3 linked regions of the Homo sapiens genome follow. The protein of the gene in region 3 interacts with the protein of the main gene of each other region in a biochemical or structural test. Each region holds a gene or a part of one and is shown on either strand. Other genes may lie near its edges.

What was found. Proteins that work in one complex are often made in the same cells at the same time.
Region 1: the proteins of INPP5D (region 3) and PTPN11 interact in a test that uses a peptide from one of them, tested with the Homo sapiens proteins (one study listed by BioGRID).
Region 2: the proteins of INPP5D (region 3) and DAB2 form a complex in vitro, tested with the Homo sapiens proteins (one study listed by BioGRID).

The regions. Positions count from the first base shown.
Region 1 is NC_000012.12:112,508,183-112,510,418, reverse strand, and holds the end of PTPN11 (tyrosine-protein phosphatase non-receptor type 11), read right to left. Parts: 3' UTR 501-2,236; downstream 1-500. UniProt on the Homo sapiens protein: Acts downstream of various receptor and cytoplasmic protein tyrosine kinases to participate in the signal transduction from the cell surface to the nucleus. Positively regulates MAPK signal transduction pathway. Dephosphorylates GAB1, ARHGAP35 and EGFR.
Region 2 is NC_000005.10:39,418,481-39,421,980, forward strand, and holds part of DAB2 (disabled homolog 2), read right to left. Parts: intron 1-3,500. UniProt on the Homo sapiens protein: Adapter protein that functions as a clathrin-associated sorting protein (CLASP) required for clathrin-mediated endocytosis of selected cargo proteins.
Region 3 is NC_000002.12:233,171,842-233,175,341, forward strand, and holds part of INPP5D (phosphatidylinositol 3,4,5-trisphosphate 5-phosphatase 1), read left to right. Parts: intron 1-3,500. UniProt on the Homo sapiens protein: Phosphatidylinositol (PtdIns) phosphatase that specifically hydrolyzes the 5-phosphate of phosphatidylinositol-3,4,5-trisphosphate (PtdIns(3,4,5)P3) to produce PtdIns(3,4)P2, thereby negatively regulating the PI3K (phosphoinositide 3-kinase) pathways.

The sequences.
Region 1 (2,236 bases), on a different chromosome or scaffold from region 3:
TCTGTGTGTTTTCTAACAATTTCCTCTGTGTGTGTGTGTGTGTGTGTGTGTGTGTATGTGTGTGTGCGCGCGCGTGCGCGCACATATATATTTTTGGGGGGCATGCAGTGAGAGTAGGTGAGAAAGGGTCTCACTATGTTACCCAGACTGGTCTAAAACTCCTGGGCTCCTGGGTTCAAGGAATCCTCCCGTCTCAGCCTCCAAGTAGCTGAGATTACAGGGGCGCGCCACCATGCCCAGCATTTCTTCTATAGTTTACACAGACTATACTTTTTACTCTTGAGTTACTCATATGTTCTCCCAGATAGAACTCCCTATCTCCTAAAGCTATTTCTACAGGAAACACTCAATGAATTCTTCAGGAACTCATGCCTTTATTCTATGTTCCAAGTCACTTCTAGATAAGAGCTGCTAAATGTCAGTATTTTGCCAGTGTGAGAGGTGGAGTGACCAATAATCCCATTTTTTTCCTGGACATTTCTGATGAAGCAAACGACAAATGCCATCATATAAGAAAATGGTTTTATTCCTAATTTTTAGTTCCCATACAGTTTACAAATACACTTTTACTCTGATAATACAGCTTTGCAACTAGCAAAGCAGTTGCGCTAACACCCATAAATATAGGTGGGGAGACAATTAACATCCACTAATGTTTCTCTACATAAACTATTCTTTTAATGTCATTTTTTTAAGAACAGTTGCAAATAGACTACATAATATACGTGGGCAAAAAGGCAATTAAGTGAATCTCTTGAAACACTAAATGTATAATAAACAGCATATTATCAACATTTACATGATTCACATCAAAATGATGACATCCTAAAACGTATTCCTTTTAAAGGATAGATTTATCAATAAAATATTACATATCTTTTAATACTCTGGTACAATACTTCATATACTGCAGGAAAATTAATTGTAGGTCTAGTCATCAGCTTAATCAGGGATCCTTTTCCCATTAGCTTTTATTAATAAAAGAATCACAATTAGGTCATAAATAAACAGGCAAATTATTAATTACATGATTTGAGGCTTAGGATGAAAACTTGTCAAAATTAGTTTGATATACAGCAAAGTTATACAACACACTAAAACCAACTGTTCAATAGTTTTTGCCTTGTGTGAACTGCCCATAGTGAAAAAGGAACAAATTTTTAGTGATGAAAGATACAATAAACTATATTTTGGAACTTTTCAAGAGGAAGAAGGAAAAAAGATTTCAACAAAATTAAGGGCAAATACAGATCCTAACAAAGGCATCCTGACATCAGGGAGGCCATGTGCTTGCTATGTGTGAAAGTTGATCCCCCAACAACATACAGAAAACAAAAGCTGCACTGGCTTTGTAGTTATGTCTATAGTCTAAGTTTCCCTTATGGATACTAAGCTACAACAAAACACTTGACAATTGCAAACCTTTCCACATCCCCCTGAATTAAAAATAACTCAAGATGTTATTAGTTCTTAAAATCCCCAATAAAATAACCTCTAAAAATAATCTTGACCATTTTCCTGGCTGTTTCCCCGAAGCAACTTGGCTCTTTAAAGAATGCACACACACCAAGAAAGTCCTACCCGTGTCTCCTCATCCCCATTTAGCCACATTTGAAAAGACCTTGGTTTCAGTGGGAGAGATGACCATAAGTTTCAGAAGGGCCACACACTGGACATGAAGCGCCTTTTAGTTTTTTTTAAAAAAAGTTATTAAGACTGTGAAATTTGGCTTTTTTTTTAAACTCCAATACCTAATGTGCCAGATAATTCTTTCACCCCAAAATATAAAATCCTATGCTTATAATTTTAAAATCCTCAGTGAGCTATGGAATATTGTGCATATTTAATACCCACCAGCAACCTAGAAGTAGATGGCATCCATGTGTCTGTCACACCGACTTTCCAAACAACCTCATTCACCCATTACTGACTGCTCTGGCCCTGGGCGCTCTGACTTCCTCAGAAACCACCTCTTTGGAACTTTCCTTTCCACAACTTTTTTTTTAAAACTTCACCTCGAGCTTTCTCCATCATCCCAGCCTCTCTGCCTGATTCCATCTCATGTAAAGTAAACTCGTCTGAGAACCTGCGATCACCTTTTACCAAGCACATGATAAGCCGTAGCAACCTAGGGACTATGATAACTCTGGCCTTGGCCTAAGTTTACATAAGAACATGATAGTTTGCTGACCTCGTGGAGGGAAATCTAAATGAAATCAATATCTTATAACAAAAC
Region 2 (3,500 bases), on a different chromosome or scaffold from region 3:
GAGGGCAGCTGTGTTCAATATGGACACAATTAGGGATGAAGTTATTCACTTTCCAGTTCTTTGGGTATGGATTAACTATAGACCTTAAGAGGACTTAACTGCCCTGCTCAGATGAGGTTTAAGTGGTACCTTAAAGTTAGTATTTGTGTGCCTCTACTGATTTATGAAGCATTGCCACATTCTCCTCCTTGATTATTCACATTTAATAGTTTAAAGATATATAGGAAAGACAGTCTTCTAATTTTCAGCCTGAATGTGTGCATCTCTAGAATTTAGCTTGCCTGATACTCAAAAACAATGAGAACAAGACCATTTAAAAAATATCAGCTTAGTTATTGCATTGAGAATTGCATTTCTAGGACAGGTAAATTTCAGAAGCAGCCGCAGGAGTTCTGAAGAGTTTTTAATTTTAAAATCGAGGCAACTCATTTTCCTGATGGAGAAATGAAGCTCAGGCCTTATATAGCTTGTCTTACATGGCAAAGCTAGGCTGTGGGCACAGTCATTTGCAGCTTAGAACCCAAGCTCTTAACCATGAATCTATGTTGGCTTTTCAAAATCAGAGTTCCAATTATATACTTGTACATCACACCCTTGTATTTTTCAGTTTGAGATGTGATCTCTGTTTGACATCAGGCATTCTTAGGACTGTTTTTGCAAGGTAAGTGAGACAACTAAGGGCCAGAGACATTGAATAGCATGCCCAAGAAATGGTAGCACTGCCATTCACATGTAAGTCTGTTTAACTCTCTATCCTATGTCCTTTGCCACACATGAGGAAGACTTTTGTTTTGATTTCTGCTCACTGGGAGATTTTCCATTGCTAACCTAGCATCAGACTTCACATAGTAGGTAATTGCTAAGTATTCAGATAAACGCCAAGGTGCAAATCATAAAGATTCATAATTGAATCCTGGCTCTACCACTTAATGATAACACCTTGGGCAAGATACTCATCATATTGGAGCCAATAAATAGAGATATCTTTTCTATTTCAAGTTACTTAAAGTGAAAGTCGAATGGGAGAAAGGAGCAGTGCTTCGTTAGCCATTAAACTTTACAAAAACTAAATGAAGTAGACTCATTTATGGAGAGGACTTCATCTGCACTTCTAGACATGGCATAAAAACAAAATAAAAAGTTTTATAGGTTAGAGAAAACCATCTGGTTCAAGGGTAATGATCTAGTTTACTGGAATCCTTTTTAAAAGAAGTAAGTGGGACAGTCTCCTAATAAATGAAGATTAATTATACTCTTTAAAAACCCCAGCAGAGGGGAAAAGATTTGGAAGTGAGGTGATAATATCAAACCAAAAGTATATTGGATTTCCTAGGATCAAGAAAGTCATACTTGGTATATGGGAAAAATATCCAAATCCCATGCTTTTTAATCTTTCTGCATCCTAAGATTCAGTTAAACTGCACTGTGTTTAAAGGCTTTTGCTTTATTATCTCCATGACTGAAGGAATTCAAATACTTTGTTATGATTTCCACTGAAGAAGTGAATCCTAAAACCACTGAATTATGAAAGTTACTCTTGGATCACGTGGTGGAGAGCTAGTTTAGATACAGCTGGATGGGCCCTACTTCCAGAGTTTGCAGTTCTGACAGGTCCCCAGCTGATGTTGATGCTGCTGGTTTGGGAATCAGCTCTGAGAACTATTGTCTTAGATGAGTTCCCTCAAGCTGTGAAATACACATCAAGCTAAATGTCCAATTTTGAAAGACTGAATTAATTTGTCAAATGCAAACTTGTGTATGGCAGCTCATCTTTCATATAAAGATCAAAGTCTTTTTGGGACTAACATTTTGCATCATATTGCTAGGTAGCAATAGGGTAGTTTTTTACCAAGAGACAACATTAAACCATATTTCCCTCATCCAGATTTCTTCTAGGTTGAAAGGTGCTTCAAATCCAGCATTCTAGGATTGTTACTTCCTATTTACCTGCTCCCTTTACTCTATGGTTACCTGAAAATCTAAGTGACAGCCCTCATACATTGTTTACCTTCAACGTAACACTCACTCAGCCTGCCCCATTCACTTAGAATTTTTACCAGTTGACTTAGTTAAAAATCACTTGCCCCTAGCTAGCTAGTACAAATGTAGTAGGGAAAACTTGCCAGGCTGCTTCTATATTGAGGTAGTAACTTTTAGGTTCCAGAAATTTCATAAGCTTTCATGTTTTGCTATCTAGATGATGCAAGAACTAGGAAGGTTAGAAAATTAAGTATTGGGATTAAAATAAGTTTGGAGGGGGTGATATAAGTAGAGAGGAGATTCTACTTCACTTAGTAACTTCCATTTTTAGACCAGGAAGCAATTTGTTCAGATTCTACTTCCCCTAGAGAGGCAGGCTTCCTTCCAGGGTAGAAGGATGCGGGAAGGGGAGTAACCATGGCAACCTGCCCAGCTATGTGGGCAAGGATAGTATGGGGCCTGCACACACTCGGAAGAATTTTTATTTCTAGCCTAGTCATTCAGTTTAATCCGGGTGGTCCCTCCCTTCCCACTTCCTTCTGTGACAATGCTGACTTCAGGGGGAAGGATTGCTCCTTCTCTGTCAGGAGTCTGAGAGGGTGTGGGGAGGACTTAATTGAGACCAGCGAGGTCAGCCTGACCAAACCAAAGTGCAGGCTTCCAGGACGAAAACAGAGAGTAACTCCCTGTCTGTTCTAGCATGAGCACAAGCAAACGCACTGGCTTTATTAAAATCAAGTGCTTGAATAATTAACCTTTTTCAAGTAGGTGAAGGGTATTCAATTTTCATGAAGAAATTTTCCATTTGCTTTCAGTTTTCACAAAGACACTTAATTCAGTTGTTCAGGGGGGAGTAATAACAAACAAACAAAACCTTCAAAATCAGATGGGAAAAAGTATTCCAAGTATATTAGATTAGCTGTCTTCCCAGCAATCCTGGGGTAGGTACTATTATTCTCCCCAGATAAGCAAGCTGAAGTACAGAGAGGTTATGGAATGTGCCCAAGGCCATGTAACCTGCAACCCTGTAGCTAAGATTTGAACCCAGGAAATGGTACTTCAGAAGGTAGTTCTCAACTACTATCCAATTGTGCCCTGTTGGAGGCAGCCAGTGTTGAATGTTAGCCCTCTGTGTCCGTACCAGTCATCATTTGTTCCCCTAACCAGGAATTTGCTTGTTTTCTGTCTTTAAGTAAAGACTGAGGAGTCTGCTTTCCTTCTGATTTCCACCAGTTAATCCAGTCAGGATATGCTGATATTATGAGTTGGGTCTCCTTTAAAGACACATATCTGGTGTTAAATCTGATTCATCTGGCCGGGTGTGGTGGGCTCATGCCTGTAATTCCAGCACTTTGGGAGGCCGAGGTGGGTGGATCACTTGAGGTCAGGAGTTCGAGACCAGCCTGGCCAACATGGTGAAACCCCGTCTCTACTACTACTACAAAAAAAAAAAAAAAATATTATCCAGGTATGGTGGCGGGTACCTCTAATCCCAACTAATCAGGAGACTGAGGTCACAG
Region 3 (3,500 bases):
GGAAGCCAGCCCCTGGCAGGATTCAAGGGTCAAATGGCTGGGACGGTGAGGTACCCAGGCCCACTAGAAGCCTAGGGCAATGGAGCGCAAGTTCAAAGTGTCATCTGAAAGAGTTCTGGGCCCCATCTGGGCTCAGGAGAAAGTGAAGAACTGGACGTGGGAGAGGAAGGCCAAGCGCTGGGTGGATTTTAGAACAGAGCAGGAGAGGAAGAGAATACAACTGAGAGGACAGGAGGAGATCCCGGACTGCTGTCACCCACGAGGCTGGGACCCCCAGGATGGGACACCCCATTCCGCAGGGTCCACTGCCTGCTGTGTGGATAAGGTCACCTGGCCCAAAGGCACTGTCAGAGCAGGTCCTTGGGGATCCCTGTGCAGGCTGGTGAAGGATGGTTTGCTTTGATGTGAGTTTAAGTTGAGGCAGAGGAGGGCCTGAGATGGGAGAGTGGCCGGTCCTAGATGCCAGGATGACAGGCCACAGGGGGCCACTGCAAGCTCTGCCGGGCACTGGTGCATCAGAGTGGCATGTGCAGAATTGTGGTGGGCATTGTGGTAAAGGATGAGGACGCGGCAGGGGCATCGGTGAGGAGGCCGTTGTGCACATTCAGCTGAGCAACAGCTAGGGCCGAATCAGGGAAAAAACAGTGAAAATGAAAGAAAGGGGGAAATCAGGATATATTGCGAGACCTGATTGCCATTGATAAAAACTGGAAAATCACAAGGCGGAGCTGGCTTGAAGGGGAAAAAAATAGAACTTGTTTTCAGACTTACTGATTGTGTGACATCAGTGGAAGAACCCAGAGAAAATACCCAGAAGGCAGCTGAAAATAGCGATGCGTCGCTTAACAACGGGGATATGTTCCGAGAAGCGTGTCATTAGGTGACTTCGTCATTGTGGGAACCTCATGAAGTGTGTATACACAAAGCCCACTTCAGTTAGATGGTGTGGCCTATTGATCCTAGGCTACAAACCCGTATAGCATGTTACTTTACTGAATACTGTGGGCAACTGTAACACAATAAGTTTTTGTGTATCTAAACATTAAAAAGGTACAGTAAAAATATGGTATAAAAAGAAAAAAATGGGCTGGGGGCAGCGGCTCATGCCTATAATCCCAGCACTTTGGGAGGCCGAGGTGGGTGGATCACTTGAGGTTAGGAGTTCAAGGCCAGCCTGGCCAACACGGTGAAACCTTGTCTCTACTAAAAATACAAAAATTAGCCATGCATGGCGGTACACGCCTGTAACCCCAGCTACTCGGGAGGCTGAGGCAAGAGAATCGCTTGAACCCGGGAGATGGAAGTTGCAGTGAGCCGAGATCGCGCCATTGCATGCCAGCCTGGGTGACAGAGCAAGACTGTGTCTCAAAAAAAAAAAAAAAAAAAGAAGGTGGTACACCTGTATAGGGCACTTACCATGAATGAAGCTTGCAGGCTTGGAAGTTGCTCTGGGTGAGTCAGTGAGTGAGTGGTGAATGAGTGCGAAGGCCTAGGACATTACTATGCACTGCTGTAGACCTTACAAACACTGTACACTTAGGCTACCCTACATTTATTTTTTAAATTTTCTTTTTCCAATAATAAACTAACCTTAGCTTACTGTAATTTTTTATTTATAAGCTTTTTATTTATAAACAATTTAATTTTTGACGCTTTTGTAATAAAATGTAGCTTAAAATACAAACACATTGTACAGCTGTACAGAAATATTTTATTTCTTTATATTCTTAATCTATAAGCTTTTTTTCAAGTTTTAAAATTTCAAAACTCTCATTTACATTGACTTTTTTGTTGAAAATTAAGACGTAGGCTGGGCACCGTGGCTTATGCCTGTAATCCCAGCATTTTGGGAGACCGAGGTGGGTGAGTCACCTGAGGTCAAGAGGTCGAGACCAGCCTGGCCAACATGGCAAAACTCTTGTCTCTACTAAAAATACAAAAATTAGCTAGGCGTAGTGGTGTGCACCTGTAATCCCAGCTACTTGGGAGACTGAGACAGGAGAATCGCTTGAAACCTGGAAGCAGAGGTTGCAGCGAACCGAGATGGCGCCACTGCACTCCTGCCTGGAGCAAGGCTCCGTCTCAAAAAAAAAAACAAAAACAAAAACCATAAATGCACACATTAGCCTAGGCTGAAACAGGCTCAGGATGGTCAATGACATTATCACCCACCTCCACATCTCATCCCATGGAAGGTCCTCGGGGCAATAACATGGAGCTGTCGTCTCCTATGATGACAATGTCTTCTTCTGGTTACCTCCTGAAGGACCTGCCTGAGGCTATTTTATAGTTAACATTTTCTTATAAGTAGGAATACACTCTAATGATAAATAATATCGTAAACACGGAAATGAGTGACAGTTGTTTATCATTATCAAATATTATGTACTGAACAGAATTGTACTGTTATGCTTTTACACAGCTGGCAGTGCAGTGGGCTGGTTTGCACCAGCATCCCCAGAAGCATGTGAGTAATGTGTTGCGCTGTGACGTGATGACAGCTACAGCAGCACTACGTGATGGGGATTTTCCAGCTCCATTATAATTTTGTAGGACCTCTGTCCTATATGCAGTCCATTACTGTGGTACATGACTATTTGTGGAGCCCCACGGGTAATTCTCAGAGGCAGCTGATGCCGAGAACTGCAATGTTAAGAAGTAACTGTTTAGGCTGGGCACAGTGGCTCATGCCTGTATTCCCAACACTTTGGGAGCTGAGGCAGGTAAATCATTTGAGGCCAGGAGTTTGAGACCAGCCTGGCCAACATGGCGAAACCCCATCTCTACTGAAAATACAAAAATTAGCCAGGTGTGGTGGCGCACTCCTGTGATCCCAGCTACTCAGAAGGCTGAGTCAGGAGAATTGTTTGAATCCGGCAGACAGAGGTTGCAGTGAGCTGAGATTGCCCCACTGCACTCCAGCCTGGGCAACAGAGTGAGACCCTGTCTCAAAAAAAAAAAAAAAAAAAGGACTTAACTAACTGTTAGGCAGAATCAATGAAAACTAAAAATGCACCTATTCTATGATTCAGTAATTCCGCTTTGGTGTGTGTTCAAGAGAAATTTGTATATTTGTTCACCAAAAATAGGTATAAGAATGTTTAGCCGGGCATGGTGGCTCACGCCTATAATCCCAGAGCTTTGGGAGGCCAAAGCAGGTGAATCACCTGAAGTCAGGAGTTCCAGACCAGTCTGGCCAACACCGCGAAACCCGTCTCTATACAAAATTAGCCGGGCATGCTGATGGGCGCCTGTAATCCCAGCTACTCGGGAGGCTGAGGCAGGAGAATCACTGGAACCTGGGAGGTGGAGATGGTGGTGAGCCGAGACCATGCCACTGCACTCCAACCTCAGCAACAGGGCGAGACTCCATCTCAAAAAAAAAAAAAAAAAAAAAAATGAATGTTTATGGCAGCCTTGTTTGTAATCTTCAAAACTGAAAACAACCCTATGTCCATTAACAGTAGAGTAGATAAATGTGATACTTATAAACAATGGAA